Regions from separate parts of the Homo sapiens genome. Here region 1 is linked to region 2. Evidence: fine-mapped expression QTL. A gene starts in region 2. The other region holds a variant in brackets. All regions are shown on one strand. Distances are from middle to middle.

The links. PIP is the estimated chance that this variant, and not a neighbour inherited with it, causes the effect. A credible set is the group of variants that fine-mapping cannot tell apart.
Region 1: its variant is the best candidate, but not a certain one, in a credible set for the expression of DCTN5 in whole blood (INTERVAL, PIP 0.84).

Annotation. Positions count from the first base shown.
Region 1 is chr16:23,754,471-23,759,843 of GRCh38, reverse strand. CHP2 (calcineurin like EF-hand protein 2) reads right to left here and starts at 4,818. Exons shown (of 7, transcript NM_022097.4): 1 at 4,728-4,818; 2 at 4,111-4,183; 3 at 3,917-3,997; 4 at 3,651-3,781; 5 at 3,395-3,456; 6 at 2,521-2,643; 7 at 909-2,314. The coding sequence starts at 4,794. The coding sequence ends at 2,261. RefSeq lists an enhancer at 4,285-4,930. The variant T/A (reference allele first, on the strand shown) is at 2,465.
Region 2 is chr16:23,639,306-23,644,638 of GRCh38, reverse strand. It overlaps DCTN5 (dynactin subunit 5), which reads right to left and starts at 3,173. Exons shown (of 6, transcript NM_032486.4): 1 at 3,049-3,173; 2 at 1,616-1,684. The coding sequence starts at 3,096. It overlaps PALB2 (partner and localizer of BRCA2), which reads left to right and starts at 3,329. Exons shown (of 13, transcript NM_024675.4): 1 at 3,329-3,529. The coding sequence starts at 3,482. RefSeq lists an enhancer at 2,111-2,900 and a silencer at 4,028-4,262.

The DNA of each region.
Region 1 (5,373 bases), 120 kb before region 2:
CTTCCACCCTGCCCTTTATACAGGCTGAATATGTGCAAAGCCCTGGAGCAAGGCATCACAGTGCTTGCAAAAAGAAGCCACTAGCATGTAAGGCTGGGTGCAGTGGCCCATGCCTATAATCCCAGCACTTTGGGAGGCCGAGGTGGGTGAATCACTTGAGTCTAGGAGTTCAAGACTAGCCTGGGCAACATGGTGAAACCCCACCTCTTTTTAAAAAAAAAATTAGCTAGGCATGGTGGCATGTGCCTGTAGTCCAAGCTACTCAAGAGGCTGAGGTGGGAGCATTGCTTGAGCCCGAGAGGCAGAGGTTGCAGTGAGCCAAGACTGCCACTGCACTCCAGCCTGGGTGACAAAGCTAGACCCTGTCTCAAAAAAAAAAAAAAAAAAAAAGGAAAGAAAGATAAGAAAAGAAAGAAAGAAAAAGAAAGAAAGAAAGAAAGAAAGAAAGAAAGAAAGAAAGAAGGGAGAAAAAAGGAAAGAAACCATTGGCATGCAAAGTAATGGGAAATGTCTAGCAGGTAGTGTGCAGATAAATGTTTAACAACTGGCTTTCCAGGAGGAAAAAGCCTTAACCTGTTGCAGTTACCAATGTCTGTGGTGTAAATATTCCTGCTATAGCCAGTTTCAAGCTGCTAACATATCATTGAAAGCAGAGTTGAGATGTTATGAGCACAACTGGTTCTCATGTGTTGATGATACAAGACAACCAAAGACCAGCTCTGGGAGGGAGAAAAACAGCAGGGCAATTACAGTGTCTCCCACAGGTGCAACCAGAGAGCTCTGCTGCAGACATAGAGTCTCATAGTTTTATGGGACTTCCTGCTCCATTCCATCTTATATCAATGTTTGAACATCTTACCATGAAAACAAGCTTACTCTTAGAATCTTCGAATGCATTCACACTCTAGGAAGGTATATATTGTTTATTATTTTTACATCGTCTCTTCCCTACTGCATCAAGCCCCATCATCCTAGCATGCACCCAGGAAATCAGCAAAAACCCATTTAAGAGTCCAGACTTCAAGGGTCCCTCACAGTAATGGGCATCTCTTGTTTTGCCCGAGCAGAGCAGACCACTCGTTTCCCCTTATTCTGCTAATTGTATTTCATTTTCCTTTAAGCAACCACCTTTCACCCCATCCTGAATCCTCAGACCTTATTTCCCTGGCTCTAGGAATTAGCACATGACACAGGCCTGGCCACTCAGAGTGTTTCATTCCCCTAGAAGTAGAGATGAGACCCCAAACGGGTCAATGACACTCTCCACTTGGAATTATTGGAATAAGTAAATCTCTTCCCACTGGGTTACTGGGTTAGCAGGATAGAAGCCTGGAGCTGATGGTGGTCATCTCCATCACTAGGAAAGAGCCTTCCTGAAAATCAGGCTTACAGACAGAAAAAGCTGAGCTGGGAGATGGAGAATAACTGGAGCCTGATGACATCATTTGTGCCCTTGGATCCAGCTGTGCCTAAAGGCAGATACTTCTGGACTTTTTAATTACCTGAATTCATAAAATTTCTTTCTGACTTAAGTCACTTTGAGTTGGGTTTTCAGTGATTTGCAACTAAAATATTGCTGGCTGATTCACAGCTCTGAGACCAAATGAGATAGACCTGGTGTGGGGTCTGTGGTCTGTTAGGAACCGGGCTGCACAGCACAAGGTGAGCGGCAGGCGAGCTGAAGCTTCATCTATATTTACAGCCACTCCCCATTGCTTGCATTACCGCCTGAGCTCTGCCTCCTGTCAGATCAGCAGTGGCATTAGATTATCATAGGAGCCCAAATCCTACTGTGAACTGCACACCAAAGGATCTAGATTGTGCACTCCTTATGAGAATCTAATGCCTGATGATCTGTCACTGTCTCCCATCACTCCCATATGGGACCGTCTAATTGCAGGAAAACAAGCTCAGGGCTCCTGCTGATTCTACATTATGGTGAGTTGTATAATTATTTCATTATATATTACAATGTAATCATAATAGAAATAAAGTGCACAATAAATGTAATGCACTTGAATCATCCCAAAACCATCCCCTGTCACCCATCCGTGGAAAAACTGTCCCTGATGCCAAAAAGGTTGGGGACTGCTGAGCTAGACTTTAGTACACATCCTTCCAGCTTTCTTCTCTTGGCCCTAAATAGAGTTAGAAACGAAAATACAGTTTATTGTCGCCCTGCGTCCATGCGTCCATGGGGGCTTTGGATGAATTCCAAGGAGATACTGGTTGCAGGAGCAAGCCCAAGGCACAAACGGAGTCACTTCAGGATCCGGATGCTCATTTTTTGCTCAACGTCCATCTTCTCTAAGGACTGAGGGAAAAACAAATGGCAGGCAAGAGGCTTGACTCTCAGCTCTCCATGCTCCCAACCTCCTCCCCCAGGGTTCTACCCATTCCAGAGACCCCATCATTCCCAGGCAACCCCTATCTTTCCGCCCTCCTCCGTTGAACGTTTCCCAAG[T/A]CTGTCTGCCCCAGAACTCCTGATCTCAACTCCCCAATCCCCAAGGGCACTCTGACCTTGGTGAACTCCACGAAGGACACAGCCCCATCCCCATCTTCATCAGCCTCCTGCACCGTGCGGTCAGCGATGTTCTCCAGCTGCTCTTCTGTCACCTGTACCCCAACCATCAGACGGAGAACCTGAGAGATGAGTGAAGAGGCAGCCATAAGGAGGGGGCACGAAGGCTGCAACTCCCCATCTCCTAAACCTTGCCCACCTCATCCCAAAAGTTATTGCTAATTTTATAATCCATCCTTCATCCATTTTTCACCATATCCCCCAATAATTTTCCCTACTGCTTCAACAACCAATCTCCTATCTCTCCCTCACCATCCTGCACTACCCTCAAAATATGCTCAAACTCATTACCCAACTTTATCACCCAACCTCCATCCATCCTCCACACCATTCTCCACCTTAGCCACTAAGGGTTTCTAATTCCATCCTCATTCCATCACATCTGTTCCAGAGTTTCTCAATCTTGGCACTGTTGACATTTGGAGCCAGGTAACTCCTTGTTGGAAGAGGCTCTCCTGGGTATTGCATGATATATAGCCACATTCCTGACCTCTACCCACTAGATGCCAGTAGCACACTCTCTCCCCCATTGTGACAACAAAAAGCATCTCCAGATATTGCCAGATATTCACTCAGGGAGCAAAATCACCCCCAGTTGAGAATCACTGATCTATTCCCAACCTCATAGTCAACTGCTCCCCACTCCGACTCCCAACAAACCCACACTCTAACTGCACCCATTCCCATTTCCCAACCAATACCCCAATTATCTGCGCCCCAGTTCCCCAATCATCCCACCCCATCTCTCACACCATTGCATTTAACCATCCCATCCTTCACACATCACATCTCTTGCTCTCGCTTTCTGCCAACCTGCAGCATCTCATGCCTGGAGATCTTCCCATCGCGATCCAGGTCATAGAGCTGAAATGCATCTGGGGAGAGGGTGGGAGGGGGAAAGGAAGGTAGGTCTTCCCTGGCTCTCTTCCAGCAGCCACCTTCCTTCCCCCCACCTTGGAGGAGGGGGGAGGTTGTCAATGCCCTCAGGAAGGGAGTGGGAGATCCCTGGAGCCTGTCCCTGGTGTGGGTACATCTGCATTCTCACTTGTGCAGGTCCTCACAAACTCACAGTGAAGTTTGTTCCTTCTGCTGTTGAGAGGTTCAGGTTTCTTGGGGTCTTGGGTTTCTGTGTCCTCATCTTCTACAGGGCGAAAATGAGCCAAGACCCTGACAAAGCCTGGGAAATCCACTCGCTGGCTCCTGGGGAGACGGGACAGAATGGAAAGAGGTGGTGGTCACCTTGGCCATCACTTTGCCTCCGTCTCTAACCTCCCCTCCCACCCACTCACACACCGGTTTTCCCGCCTTCACCTCCCCACGCCCAGCAAGCCTCACCCATCGGGGAAGAAGCTTTCTATAATTCGGTCTCCCAGGGGGTTCACGGCGAGCGCCCCTATCTGCTGGAGATCCATGCGGCTGCAAAGCCAAATTTCAAAGAGGGTAAGGCAGAGATGCCAGACGGAGGGTCAAAGAGGGACATGGAGTCAGAGAGACAGAGGCCAGAAGTTATGAGGCCGGCTCCCCCTCACCTCAGGTAGCCCTTCTTATTCCTGTCCAGTGCCCGGAACCGGTGGTGCAGGCGGAGCAGGCTGGCTTGGGAGACTGCGGGAAGGAGAGTGGGGTGGGGGTGTGTGACTCTGCAGGGCCAGCTCCAGAAACCCGCCCCAACAGGCCAGGAAGATGGGCCAGAACAGCGGGGGCTGGCTGGAAGGGGCGATCATCCCGGGGAATCAGGGGTTGAGCTGGCCGGGGCGGAGGGAGAGTGACACGACCCCGCGAAGATCCAGGTTCAAGACCCGGGCGGCTCGCAACCTCCCGAAAACCAAAGAACCAAAGCCATCCCTTCCAACCGCCGTCAGCTCTGCCTTCAGCTTCGAGCCGGGCTGGAGGACACCTGGGTGCCTGGATTCCTCTGGACTCCGACCCCGTGAACCCGGATCCTCCCCAGACTTGGAGGCTGGGACCCCTAGGTTAACCCGCCCCTAACCCAGCGATCCCAGGCACAGGGGCCTTGGTCTTCCAGCTCCGGGGAGCCCCGGACCCCAGACTTGTAAGTTCGTCCATCCTTCAACCCAACCCCTTCCCTAGCCCCAGACGCCTGGGTTCGCCCCGTCCCCTCCGCAGCCGCCGACGCGGGCGCACTCACAGCCGGTCTCTCGCCGAATACTGTCCCCGTCGGGAATGACCGCGGCGTGGGAGCTGCGCGACCCCATGGCCGAGCTGGAGGCGGAAGGGCCGGAGCAGCCACCCGGACCCACGCGTTCTCTCCTCCCGCCGGAGAGGCGTGGCCGCCCCAGTGGCCCCAGGGGGACGAAGGCCACAAGCCTGGCGCGCGGCCAAGCTCCAGAACCCCGGCGTGCCTCTCCTCCCACCCGCGACCCGGGCGAATGGAAAACAATGTGCAGGGTGGCGGGTCAGAGGGAGGCTGCGAACAACGGGCTGTTTCAGCTCCGAGATTTTGCGATCCGCACGGGAGAGGCTGGTCGAGTCCCAGGCCCCGCGTTTCCACGCCTCCCCCGGGGCCGGTTCCCACGGTGCGCCCTGACACCTGAGCCACCTCCTCCTTCGCGGGCCCCGGGCGCTCCCAACCCCAGGGCGCTCCCCGGCGTCGACGCTGAGGAAGCCTGGGAGACCTGACCTCCTCTGTAGAGACCACGCCCTGCTGGAAGGCGGGTGGCCTATGGGGAGGGAATCCTGGGGGGAGGGGGGAAGAGGCATCGAAGAACTCCCAAAGACGGGGAAGTGGGGAGGGGCGGCGAGATGAAGGGTGTGCGTTAGGTTAAGTGGAAAGA
Region 2 (5,333 bases):
TATGGTGAAACCCTGTCTCTACTAAAAATACAAAAATTAGGCCAGGCGCGGTGGCTCACGCCTGTAATCCCAGCACTTTCGGAGGACAAGGCAGGTGGATCACGAGGTCAGGAGATTGAGACCATCCTGGCTAACACGGTGAAACCCCATCTCTGATAAAAATACAAAAAATTAGCTGGGCATGGTGGTGGGTGCCTGTAGTCCTAGCTACTCAGGAGGCTGAGGCAGGAGAATGGCGTGAGCCTGGGAGGCGGAGCTTACAGTGAGCCAAAATCGCACCACTGCACTCCAACCTGGGCAACAGGGCGAGACTCCATCTCAAAAAAAAAAAAAAAAAAAAAAAATTAGGTGGGCATGATGGCGGGAGCCTGTAATCCCAGCTACTCTGGAGGCTGAGGCAGGAGAATCACCTGATGCCAGGAGGTGGAAGTTGCAGTGAGCCAAGATCGCGCCACTGTACTCCGACCTGGGTGACAGAGCAATACTCTGTCTCAACAAAAAAGGAAAAAAAAGAAACAGTATGTCTGAGCAGCAATTACTGAATTATATTTCTTTTCCACTTAATTCCTTGGTATGACAGGCTTAATGGAGACTAATTATCTTCTACTGAAAATATTTGTGATCTCTTGGTTATAAGGAGACTATTTTCCTTCTGGAAGTTAGAGATGTAATATTTAAAGAAAAATTAATTTCAAAATTGAGTGTTCCAGATGGCAGGAAAACAACTGTGAACTTCACTGTTTGTCAAGCTCAAATATACCCTGTGATATTTTCTCTTCCAAGTTTATACTCGTCTCTTTGCTATTGTAATTTATTTGGATTACAAGATTCTCAGGCTTTCAGATTCCACTTTGCATATTTGTCTCATACTTTAATATCTTTTCCAATTGTCACATTCGTTTTAAGAGTTTCAGTTAATAGTGAATTATTAATTTTTACTAAAGAGATAATTTTATAAGTATTACTTTAGTTTCTACCTTCAAATATTTCATTACCTGTTACACTTTGTGCCCAGTAGTTTAATGCACACTATATCATAAAATAATGTTGGTTCTAGGTACCACTGTATTTTGTTCCTGGCATAAAAGAAAAAAGGTTTTCTGTTGCCTCTTATTGAACCTTTTTGCATTCAAGAGATCCAACTTAGGCTGGGTGCAGTGGCTCACACCTATAATCCCAGCACTTTGGGAGGCCGAGGTGGGTGGATCACTTGAGGGCAGGAGTTCAAGACCAGCCTGGCCAACATGATGAAACCCTGTCTCTACTAAAAATACAAAATATTAGCCGGGCTTGGTGGCAGCTGCCTGTAATCCCAGCTACTCGGGAGGCTGAGGCAGGAGAACTGGTTGAACCTGGGAGACGGAGGTTGCAGCGACCTGAGATGGGGCCACTGCACTCCAGCCTGGGCGACAGAGTGAGACTGTCTCAAAAAAAACCGAAACAAAAAAAAAACAAAAAGGAGATCCAATTTACAAAATAAAAAATTTAAAAACAAGAGAATTAAAAATGTAAACAATAAATAGGAGATATGGCAACATTTTATCTGCCCTGCTGTGGTGACAATTAGCAGAACGCAAGCTAAGGTTTGCAGCCTGGAGCTGGCTTTGTCCCTTACCTTGCCATTGAGAACGATGTTCTGGCTTCCACACAACACTGACTGGCGACTGACTTTGTTCCCAGATGCCTAAAAGAAAACAACGGAAAACCGGGGAAAGCAAACTTAATAGGTTTCTGGACTACAGGTTTCCATCAAGAAAGCTCCCATTTGAGAGAAAAAAACATAAAGTGGGGTGCTGTCCACAATGGAGTGAGTCCAGGATATCAAAAAAGCAATGATGGATTAGGAAACTATGGCTGAGTATGGTGGCTCATGCCTGTAATCTCAGCACTTTGAGAGGCTGAGGCAGACGGATCCCTTGAGGACAGGAGCTCAAGACCAGCCTAGGCAACATAGTGAGACCCCTTCTCAACAAAAAAAAAATTTTTTAATTAGCCGGGCATGGTGGCGCGTGTCTGTAGTCCCAGCTCCTCAGAAGGCTGAGGCTAGAGGATCGCTTGAGCCTGGAAGGCCGAGGCTGCAATGAGCTGTGATTGTGCCACTGCACTCCAGCCTGGGCAACAGAGTGAGAACCTGTCTCAAAAAATAAAAACACAAAGGAAACTAGGGACTCAAGGAATAAACTCATAATTTGAATGTCTATAGCTTGGTGGCATCAGACAGACGCGGATTCAAATCCCACTTCCACGCGTGGGCTTTACGGCCTTAAAACGAGGATAATGACTATGAGTATCAGAGTTGTGAGAAAGCAAAGAAAACCAAAATAACGATAGTAACGTTAATTGACCACTTGCCCTGTTTCCAAGATTTTACAAACATATCATGTACTGATCATAAAGAACCAAATCGGCAGGGTGCGGTGGCTCACGCCTGTAATGCCAGCACTTTGGGAGGCCGAGGCGGGTCGATCACCTGAGGTCAAGAGTTAGGGACCTGCCTGGCCAACACGGTGAAACCCCGTCTCTACCAAAAAATACAAAAATTAGCCGGGCGTGGTGGCGGGCGCCTGTAATCCCAGCTACTCGAGACGCTGAGGCAGGAGAATCGCTTGAACCCGGGAGGCGGAGGTTGCAGTGAGCAGAGATCGCGCCGCGGCCCTCAGGACTGGGCGACAGAGTCTCCGCCCCCCAACCCCCTTCCTCAAAAAAAAAGAACCGAATCGTTTTTAGCGCAAGTTAACAGATACAAAAGGCAGTGTAAAAGGGCCCGAAGTCCGAGCTGTAATTCGTATGAACAGGATGGGACTTGTCCTATCCTCCCGAAGGCACTTTACCCCTATGAGAAAATCAGGAATAAATACAAAAGGCCTCAACTGGCCAAGCGCGGAGTAAACAGCAAAGCCAGACGGTACACGGGGCATCGCTAGATAATCCGGGACTAATGGCCAAAGGGACAGGGGTTGGTGGGGTAGGGGCAGGTTGGGAACGCCGACCAGGCCTCAAAGGGACGCAGGGTTGGAAAGAGGAGGATACATATCTGGACCCGCGCACCGTCTCGATGTACTCAGACTTGTTGTAGAGCAGCTCGCCCAACTCCATGGCCGCCGCCTCCTTCCCTCAGCCCCGGATCCTGTCAGAGTCAGTCGGTCAGTCTTTCAGAGATTCCGGCTACTTCCGGCCGCTCCTCCACTTCCGCTCCAGGTGGCCCACTGGGACTCATCGACAGCGCGGCTCTCCTTTAGGCGGCCTCGCTCCACTGCTCGGCCGTCTACGGCTGCGCGTGCGCAGGCCGAATGGTGGATTTAATTGGCCGGAGTTTAGGGCGCGCTTGGCCCGCGTGGGTCAGCTGATCGCGCACTGAGGGTGCGATCCCGGGCTCCCCATTCCTTCCTGGGGCGCCTCCCCGGCCCAGGGCCAACTGGGTCCCGGTGTCGGCAGGCCTGGGGTCGGCGACGGCTGCTCTTTTCGTTCTGTCGCCTGCCCGATGGACGAGCCTCCCGGGAAGCCCCTCAGCTGTGAGGAGAAGGAAAAGGTGCCGGGGGTGCGGGAAGGGCGGACGCAGGACTCTGACCCCGCTTTCCCAGGGTTTTAGGCCTGGCTTTGTGTCCTCGGCAGTCCGAGGGCAGCAGTATCATCTGACCACCCCCTCCTCTTAGGGCTGAGGGGGCACAGAAAATGAAAATGTGGAAATAGCGTGGTGCTCACGTGGTGGCGTTTAAAGAACAAATTTCATTACAGTAGCAGCGCATTAATACAATGTGTAACAGTTTGTAGATAAAGCTGTATCGACACCCTTGCTCCTCCCCCCTCCCACACCCTCAATCTTTACTTCTCCCCCCGGACGGCCTCAAGTAAATCTTTTAAGTCTGGTACTTCCAGGTCCTTTCGTGTGTTAATGTGGGTGGTGGAGGAGGGGCGTATCCCTAACCACCAAAAAGGAATCCTATGTATATTTTTTGGAGAAGGGAATGTTCATAAATGGTATGATCTGAATGGTTCTGCAGGTTCCGTTTAGCTTTCCTGTCAGGACATGTTTATCTACCTTGCTTTCTTTTTTAAGTTCTAGACAGTATGTTGTAGTTTGGAAGTGCCCTCGTTTTGTTTCTTTTTTCTTCCTTTTCTGTTTTTCTTCTTTTTTGAGACAGAGTCTCACTCTGCCACCCATGCTGGGGTGCAGTGGCGCGATCTCGGCTCACTGCAACCTCCGCTTCCTGGGATCAAGCGACTCTCCTGCCTCAGCCTCCCGAGTAGCTGGGATTACACGAACCCGCCACTGCACCTGGCCTTGGAAGTGCCCTTGCTTCTTTAGACTGTACTTTACTGATAGACTTTTAGGATGTTTCCAGCTTGTGCTGATGTTATTCTTATCCTGGCTTACCTTCTGGTGGAGGTGAGAAAGATCATTTATAAGTAAACAAGATAATCCCCAGACATTGATAAGATTGGTGGGAGGCCAGTCTCCCTGGCTCACGCCTGTAATCCCCGCACTTTGGGAGGCCGAGATGGGCAGATCGCTTGAGCTCAGAGTTTGAGACCAGCCTAGGCAACGTAGTGAAACCCCGTCTCTACTAAAAATACAAAAATTAGCCGGGTGTGGTGACGCCAGCCTGTAGTCCCAGAGGCTCAGGCCTCAGAGGCTGATGCACGAGAATCGCTTGAACCAGGGGACGCTGAGGTTGCAGGGAGCTGCCGAGATCGCGCCACTGCACGCCAGGCTGGACGACAGAGTGAGACTGTCTCTCAAAAAAAAAGAAAATTCCTTACGGTTGGCAACTTGTCTAGTAGCATGTTTTGCACATAGGTTTTGTTTTGTTTGTTTTTGAGACAGACTCTCCGCTCTATCTCCCAGGCTGGAGTGCAGTGGCTCGATCTTGGCTCACTGCAACCTCCGCCTCTCAGGTTCAAGCGATTCTCCTGCCTCAGCCTCCCGAGTAGTTGGGATTACAGACGCCCAACACCACGCCGGGCTAATTTTTGTATTTTTAGTAGAGACAGGGTTTCTCCATGTTGGCCAGGCTGGTTTTGAACTCCTGACCTCAGGTAATCTGCCCGCCTTGGCCTTCCAAAGTGCTGGGATTACAGGTGTGAGCCACTGCACCCGGCCTTTTTTTTTTTTTTTTTTTTCAAGCAGAGTCTCGCTCTGTTGCCCAGGCTGGAGTGCAGTGGCGTGATCTAGGCCCACTGCAACCTCCGCCTCCGGGTTCAAGCAATTCTCCTGCTTCAGCCTCCTACAGGCACCCACCACCACACCCGGCTCATTTTTGTATCTTTAGTAGAAGCAGGATTTCACCATGTTGGCCAGGCGGGTCTCGAACTCTTGACCTCAAATGATCCAC